Regions from separate parts of the Homo sapiens genome. Here regions 2 and 3 are each linked to region 1. The links come from fine-mapping of genetic effects on gene expression. A gene starts in region 1. Each other region holds a variant in brackets. All regions are shown on one strand. Distances are between the middles of the regions. Region 1 holds the start of PSAT1 (phosphoserine aminotransferase 1). Region 2 overlaps GNA14 (G protein subunit alpha 14). Region 3 has its middle 55 kb from the start of PSAT1.

What was found. PIP is the estimated chance that this variant, and not a neighbour inherited with it, causes the effect.
Region 2: its variant is fine-mapped to the expression of PSAT1 in rectum (CEDAR, PIP 0.95).
Region 3: its variant is fine-mapped to the expression of PSAT1 in T cells (TOPMed, PIP above 0.99). The same link has a PIP of 0.9 or more in CD4 T cells, blood mononuclear cells, memory regulatory T cells, naive CD4 T cells, naive CD8 T cells and whole blood.

Annotation. Positions count from the first base shown.
Region 1 is chr9:78,295,579-78,298,343 of GRCh38, reverse strand. PSAT1 (phosphoserine aminotransferase 1) reads right to left here and starts at 1,219. Exons shown (of 9, transcript NM_058179.4): 1 at 1,074-1,219. The coding sequence starts at 1,133. RefSeq lists a silencer at 614-853 and enhancers at 806-1,389, 1,390-1,973, 1,864-2,133.
Region 2 is chr9:77,564,907-77,567,671 of GRCh38, reverse strand. The region is part of intron 1 of GNA14 (G protein subunit alpha 14); the gene reads left to right. Among named protein-coding and RNA genes, the nearest start is that of GNA14, 82 kb to the left of the region's middle. The variant G/AG (reference allele first, on the strand shown) is at 1,527.
Region 3 is chr9:78,350,615-78,353,379 of GRCh38, reverse strand. No RefSeq gene overlaps it. Among named protein-coding and RNA genes, the nearest start is that of PSAT1, 55 kb to the right of the region's middle. RefSeq lists an enhancer at 2,608-2,765. The variant G/A (reference allele first, on the strand shown) is at 1,380.

The DNA.
Region 1 (2,765 bases):
ATAATTGTAAAATACTTGGCTATGCCTCATGCTGCTCCAACATATTATCAGCTCTATCCTGGTTAGAAAAATAAAAATCTAACGGCGGCGGCAGCCGCCTGACAATGGGCTCAAGGCACATCGGAGACTTTGCCTTCTTCACTGCGGGTGGGGCTGGGGACGGTGGGTTTGGCGGGGGAGGGGAGGAGCCGGGCTGGGGCCTGGGAAGGCAGAGAGTGAGTTCCACCAGCAAGATCTGATTGTGGCCCGGGAGAGAATTCAATCACTCGGTTTACTCCAGAACGAAATGAACAGGGAATTGGGTTAAGCAGCCCAAAGTCTACCAGAGTTAGAATACTCGAACGCCTTTAGGGGACAAGCAGGTTAAAAAAAGGAGGGGGGTGGGGAGAAAGGCTTTAGGAAAGGGTAGGTTCTATGGGGGACAAGGAGGGGAAAGCTGGACTGAAGGTTTTCAAATTTACATTTCTGAAAAGCAGTGTTCCTAAGTGCTGGCTAAAGCAAACACTGGTGTAAGGCGTAGGGGGGCACGCACACGCGGACCTTTAAGTTTGCAATCCCTTTCAGCTAACGTGATCCACTGCATATGCAAAACCTGTCATCGGTTCATTCCCGTTCATCACTCATTCACACTATGTCCATTCATGCATCCGCTCCACACTGCCCGGGCTCGCCGCACAGCTGCGCGAGGCGAAGGCAGAGATCAGAGCTTTTTCTTTTTCGCCCCGCCCCAGCCCCCGGACCGGCCCAGGAGATGGCACAGCCCGGGCGTCTGCAGGTGCGTGGCACCGGCGGGACAGCAGGCCCCGGCCAGCTGAGTCGTGCACTGCCTCGCACCAGCAGTCAGGGCCAGGGGCAGCTGCACGGGCACGCCTCGCCGAGCTTCCTCACCAACTGCATTCTTCCCGAAGCCCGCTTGCCGGAGCTGCTGATCCCGCTGTGCACGCTGATGCAAAGCGCCTAGGGGACTCAAGGCAGGGAGCGGGAATCCGACTGCCACACGCAGGGATGCAAACCCACCCGCGTGCGTGCTCCCGCCTGAACCTCACTCCCGGCGCCCGCTCGCGGGGACTTACTGAGTGCGGCAGCTTGGCGGGACCAGGCCCAAAGTTGACCACCTGCCTGGGGGCGTCCATGGTGCGGCGGCCAGGGCGGTGAGTCAGCCAAGGAGGACCGAACGCGTGAACGGCTGGCGTTCCTGGCCGCTGCGGTGAGAGTCTGCAGCCGGCCCCGAACCCCCGCCTTGTTCCTGCGCCGAGTCGGCGCCCCATTGGCCCGTGCTGTCGCAGGCCCTGCGCTAATTGGTTCGCGCGAAGGAGCTCACATCCCCATTGGTCGCGCTTCTGAGCCGAGTCGAAGCAGTTGCTCCTCCTCGCGTTTACTGTTTCAACCCCCATTTTTGATCAATGCAAGGAGCGCGCGAGATTGCGCCAGCCAGCCGAGCCGGCTCGGCTGCGCGCCCGCCCGAGGATTGTGGGCGGCGGGAAGAGGCTGCCCCTGCCAACCTGCCTTCGCCCCTTGAGCCCGCAATCTGGCCGGTTCCAGTCCTCCAACCCCAGAGGACCTCAGCTCCTCTCTCTTGGCTGAAAGGGCAGTTGCCGAGCAGATTTGTAGCCCCCATCCACCCACCTCTCCACCACCAGCCCCCAGTTTGGGCTGTGATGTATTTGTTCCAGAACCACCAGTCACTAATCTACCAAACTTTTCTAAGCACCCCCCACGGGCGTCAGATACCCCAGTGGAGAGAGAGGACCCCCCCAAGGTTGGAAGCGCAGGATGAAGAAGGGCCGGGGGTGGGTGGATACGGTTCTTTGTATTTGCACGTGGGTCCTGAGTTCCTGCAGGATTAAAGAACGGAGGTGGCCAAGGACGCAGGGAGGAGCGATAGCCTGGGAAGCGTGGATGCCCGCCAGGCAAGTCCTTTAAAGTCGCTGATTCTCCATTTCCTCCTTTGGGAAACGAGTGAGCTGGAAACCTGCGACAGCTCTCAGGTTGCGCCCGCGCTGACAAGCTGTGAGTTTAGAAACGTGAGGAGATATTAACAAGAACGCGATACCCATAGGGCGCTGCAGCCCAAACCAGAAGAAGGTGGCCCCTAGCCAGGCCAGGCGCAGGGCCAGAGCTGCTCAAACTTTTCCACAGAAGTGTCCTTCTCAAAAGAACTCCAGTGGAGACCCGCATGGGGTTCTGAAACAGAATACCCTCCCCCTACCCTGCAAGAAAGAAGTTCCTTTGAAGTCTGGAATTTCATCATTTTTAAACTGTGAATTTTGCATTCTCTACCATAATTTAACCTAGTTTCTTTTAATGTAAAAATATTTTCCCTGTCTGAGTAAAATTGATGCGCCAGGAATATATACAGTCCAACTGCCCCGTTTAGAGAAGGCTTGTAACTGGACAGGACTTTGGCTTTTGTTTGCTTTTCCTAATGAGAATGTGGGCGGTATGGGGCTGAGAGCAGAGGCACTGCTCTGGATCTGGGAATTGGAGGACAAAGTTTCCAGAAAAAGGCAAAATGAACAAGGCCCCTGCGTTCCTCAGCAACTTCATTAAGAAAACCGCGACATTCAAGACAGAATAAATCTCAGCCCAGAAACTCAGGCATGCAAGAAGCATCACATATCCATTATTTTACGTAAATAACTCAGTTATTATATATTAGTAGCTGCCCCTAGCAGCTTATCTACTGGAGACTAAGGGAGTCAGCCTTCATCCTTCCTGGAGTTAGTTCCTAACACCAGGGCTATACACAGTCCCATGTAGTGGGT
Region 2 (2,765 bases), 730 kb after region 1:
TGGTCTTGAACTCCTGACCTCAGGTGATCCATCCACCTCGGCCTCCCAAAGTGCTGGGATTACAGGCGTGAGCCACCACACCCAGCCGGAATATCTTTACCCTGGAAAACTGCCCCACAAGCATTTTTTTTAAAACTTGTGGAAGAAAATGGTGACTAGTTAGAATTAACTGTAATTATTTGTAGCTCTCATCTTATTTTGCCTGCTATACTGCATACTGAGAATGAATTCAGGATTCAAATTCACTCCAGGATGATAGTTAAAGTTAGTTCTTTATTGGAAGTTCACAGCAGAGGAGACTGATAAGGGTTAGAATTTACCTAAAGAGGTTATGGCTGTAGAGTATCTTATATTGATATGTCATTAAAAAACCTTGGAACATGAATCATGTTAGTGAAAATTTGCATTTTTGTGAACATGGAAATTGAAAATTGGAGTAGGTCAATAATCTTGCTTCCTAAAGACTAGGTAAAATGTAAATATATGGGAGCAATACATTTTATATTAAGTGTACCTCTGGATTTGCATAACAGATTTAGATATATAATGTATTTCTACTTGCTGATTTGTTTGGCAGGATCATCTCTAAATAATAAATATGCAGTATGTTTGAGAACAGATACTGGGCCCAGGCACATGACTTGTGTTATCAGTTAGTACACATGAAGGTTATTCCAAGGGCAGTATTTTTGGGAAAATAGAGCTTTGGGGCCCTGGGTATATGGCAAATACAAATAATTATTATTATTTTTAATTAGCGTAGCATTTGAGACTATTGAAGTTCACTCTCCTGAGATTCAAATTTTGGCCACAGTTGAAAAGCAGAGAGATATACTGGTCAGTTAGTTTATAAATTAACAATTCCAGGACCCAAAGTGAGTTATGTTCTGGGATCATAAAAGACATTTCATAAAAGGGTGAGGGTAGATTAAAACTTCCAAATATTACTTAAAACTCTAGGACTTAGAGTTGTATTGTCATTCCTGTTGGTGGTTGTACAAACTTATAATATTTAGTGGACATATTGAAGCCTTTCAAACTCTTCTAGCTGGATTTATTTATTTGTTCTTTAAAGATTAATTTGAATATTCTCTTGTCCTGTTGATGGGAGACAACACTGGCATATCCACTCTGAAGGGCAGTTTGGTGTTGTGTATGAACATTTCAAAAGCACAGGCAATTCCATGACTTAAGATCTACCTTTAAGAAGCACTCCTGGTTGGGTGCAGTGGCTCACGCCTATAATCCCTGCACTTTGGGAGGCTGAGGCGGGCAGATCACTTGAGGCCAGGGGTTTGAGACCAGCTTGACCAACATGGCGAGACCCTGTTTCTACTAAAAATACAAAAATTAGCCAGGCATGGTGGCACACGCCTGTAATCCCAGCTACTCAGGAGGCTGAGGCTCAAGAATTGCCTGAACCTGGGAGGCAGAGGTTGCAGTGAGCCAAGACTGCACCACCACACTCCAGTCTGGGTGACAGAGTGAGACCCTGTCTCAGAAAAAAAAAAAAAAAAAAAAAAAAA[G/AG]AAGCACTCCCACTTGTGGACAAGGATTTATGCTTAACTGGGTTTCTCAACCTCAACCTCAGCACCGGTGATATTTGGGGCCAGCCAGTTCTTTGCTTTGAGAGACTGTCCTGTGCATTGCCAGATGTTTAACAGCAACCCTGGCCTCCACTCAGTGCCAGTTACCCCTCTAAGTTGTGGCCAGAGTGTTTCTTTGCCAGATAGCATCCCATTGAGAACAACTGATGTATAGTAGTGTCCACTGTGGCACTTTTTTTCTTCTGATTTCAGATGAACTGTAAGAAGCCTAAATGCCCATTATTTGGAGCAGACTCATTCAATAGAAATACAATGTTAGCCACATCAGTAATTTCATATTTTCTAATCGTTGCATTTAAAAAGTAAAAAGTGCTGGGCACGGTGGCTCACGCCTCTAATCCCAGCACTTTGAGAGGCCAAGGCAGAAGGATCACTCGAGGCAGGGAGTTTGAGACCAGCCTGGCCAACATAGTGAAATCCCATCTCTACTAAGAATGCAAAAATTAGGCAGGCATGGCGGCGCATGCCTGTAATCCCAGCTACTTGGGAGGCTGAGGCACAAGAATCACTTGAACCCAGGAGGCAGAGGTTGCAGTGAGCCGAGATTGTGCCACTGCACTCCAGACTGGGCAACAGAGTGAGACTCTGTCTCAAAAATAAAGTTTAAAAAAAGGTAAAAAGAAACAGGTGAAATTGATTTAAATATATTTTATTTGACCCAATATATGAAACATATTATTGCTTCAACATGTAATCAATATAAAACATTATTAATAAGGCATTTTACATTATTTTCCCCCTAGTATTAAGTTTTCAAAATCTGGTCTGTATTTTACACTCTGGCACATCTCAATTCATACCAGTCTCATTCAAATACTCAGTAACCACGTTTAGCTGGTGGCTACTATACTGGACAGCAGAGATTTACAGGAATGGCATTTTAAAAGAAATACTTTGATTCAGAAGAAATACTTTCAAGTACTACATGTATACAAATGCCATATAGTAGTTGAAAGTAATAAAACAGAGAACTACAACATGGAAAGCACTCAGAGGCATACTGTTAAGTGAAAACAGCAGCAGAACAATATGCACAGTAGGAAACATGTTAAAATTATTTTGAAAAATGAAATGTATTTGTATTTTCATAGATGTGTATATTCACCAGTATATCTGTGAATACGTATGTATGTAAATGAACAGAATGAGTCCTGGAAGAAC
Region 3 (2,765 bases), 55 kb before region 1:
TTGTGCCACTGCCCTCCAGCCTGGGCGACAGAGTGAGATTCCGTCTCAAAAAAAAAAAATTAAAGTCCTAAGTATAAGATGTGAAACTATAAAACTTCTAGAAGAAAACATAGGGGAAAGGATTCATGACATTGGATTTGGTTTGGCATAATTTTTTGTATACAACACCAAAAGCACAGGCAACAAAAACAAAATAGATAAATGTGATTACATAAACTTTAACATTTCTGCCCATCAAAATAAACAGCAAAAAGGCAGTACAAAATGGTAAGAAATATTTGCAGACCATATAATATGGTAAATAACTGAATTAATATCCAGATTATTTAAACTATAACTGAGCAACAACAACAAAAATAACCTGGCTGGGTGTGGTGGTTCACGCCTGTAATCTCAACACTTTGGGAGGCCGAGGCAGGTGGATCACCTGAGGTCAGGAGTTCGAGACTAGCCTGGCCAACATGGTGAAACCCCATCTCTACTGAAAATAGAAAACTTAGGTGGGCATGTGGTGGCACATGCCTGTAATCCCAGCTACTCGGGAGGCTGAGGCAGGAGAATTGCTTGAACCTGGGAGGTGGAGGTTGCAGTGAGCTAAGATCATGCCACTGCACTCCAGCCTGAGCAACAAGAATGAAACTCTGTCTCAAAAATAAAAATTAAAAAAAAAAAACAATTTAACAATGAACAAACAACTTACATAGATATTTTTCCAAATAAAATATACAAATGAACAGCAAGCATATGAAAAAATGCTAAATATCCCTAACAATCCAGGAAATGCAAAGGTAAACCACAATGAGATATAACTTTACACCAATTAGTAAAACCACTACAAAAAAAAAAAAAGAAACAGAAAACAACAGGTGTTGGAGAGGATGCACAAAAACTGGAACCCTTGTGAACTATTAGTGGGAATGTAAAATGGTGCAATTGATATAGAAAACAGTATGAACATTCCTAGGAAAATTAAAAATAGAATTACTATATGATCCAAAAATCCCACTTCTGGAATATATCCAAAACAGTTAAAAACAGGGTTTTGAAGAGACATGGTACACCCATGTTCACAGCAGCATTATTCATAATAGCCAAGATGTGGAAGCAACCCAAATATTATTGATGGATGAATGGATAAACAAAATGGGGTCTATACATACAATGGAATATTATTTTGCCTTTAAAAGGAAGAAAATTCTATCACATGCAACAACATGGATGAATCTTGAGGACATTTTGCTAAGTGAAATAAGCAGATCATAAAAAAACAAATACTGCATATGAAGTACCTAACACAGTCAAACTCTTAGAAACAGGAAGTAAGGTGGTGGTTGTCAGGGGTTGGGAGGGAAGGAAGAAGGATGGTGGTTGTTCAATGG[G/A]CGTAGAGTTTCAGTTTAGCAAGATGAAAAAGTTCTAGAGATCTGTAGTACAGCACTGTGTGTATAGTTAACCCTACCATTCTAGACACTTAAAAATAGTTACGATGGTAAAGTTTGTTATGTGTTTTTTACCACAATAAAAAAACTGACATTAAAAAAGAGCACAAGGCAAAGGTGAGAAATGAATTCATATTGTGGAGTCTCTGAATTTGGAGACTTAAAGAAAAAGGAATCTGTTTTTCTGGGTTGCTTAAAACACAGTACCACCAGGTGTAGTAGGGAGTGAACAGAGGGCATCTCAAGGTCCCTTCTGGACTTAGGATTTAATGCCCATTTATTGAGAACCTCTTGGTGCGTTTGCTCAGTACTATATCAAGATGGAGTTGTTCCATGTGCCCTAAAAGCTTATGATCTAAAAAGGCCAGAGAAACGGCAGAGACATAAAAAATGCCAGAACAATGCAACAACCTTAATCAGACTGTCTTTGCTTTTCTTTGCTTCTAAGTCCCTGGCTTTAAATTTAATATTGTGTCATGTCTCTATTTTTCTTGAGTTTTCTTAAAAGATCATATAAAGATTTTCTTCCATGCTAAGGCTTTTATATTGTATTTTTCTTAAAATGGAGTGTGGTACATTTACCCTTCATCCAAGGATTGCTTATAACTCACCTTGCTTTATTAAGAATGCTGCTAGAGGCTTCTATGCCCCTAGTAATAAAAATGTATTTTCGGGCCCATTCAAACCAATGAACTTCTGAGTTTTCAGAGCACAAGATAATGAAAATTCTCTAGATCGGTGTCTTTTAGTACTTTTAATCTCTTAACAGATCCTGAGTGTCTCAGATGAAAGGGACTCTAGCGTGAATCGCTATCATTAATAGCATTCCATCCAGGTAATGCTTGATTATTCCAATTTCTCACAAATTTGGACACTTTTACTGTCTCTATAACATCTCTAGGGGGTGAGAAAGAAAAGGGACCAGTGCAATTTATTTCTCAAAATATACACAGAAATATAATTGCACATACATACAGGAAAGCATTATAAATAATGGATGAGTAGCAAGGGAATGCCAATAATAGAACTACTCATGTAGCAAGACAACACTCATCACTAAATGTCCCCTCACCAAAATGGATTGAGAATTCTTAGGGGCCACCAAGCCAGAGATGGAGATTTATAGAAATCTGGGATGTTTGAAAAGTGAGAGGTTGTGTAACCTCCTTGAATAAGATAGCAGTTATCTTCCAAAATTGCAAAAATGGTTCCAACTAGTCTCCTCCTTATATCCTCCCCCTTAGCAATGTGACTTTACAGCTTCTCCCATCAAGAGGTGGAGTCTGTTTCCCCATCCTGTGAATCTGGGTTGACTCTGACTTGCTTTGG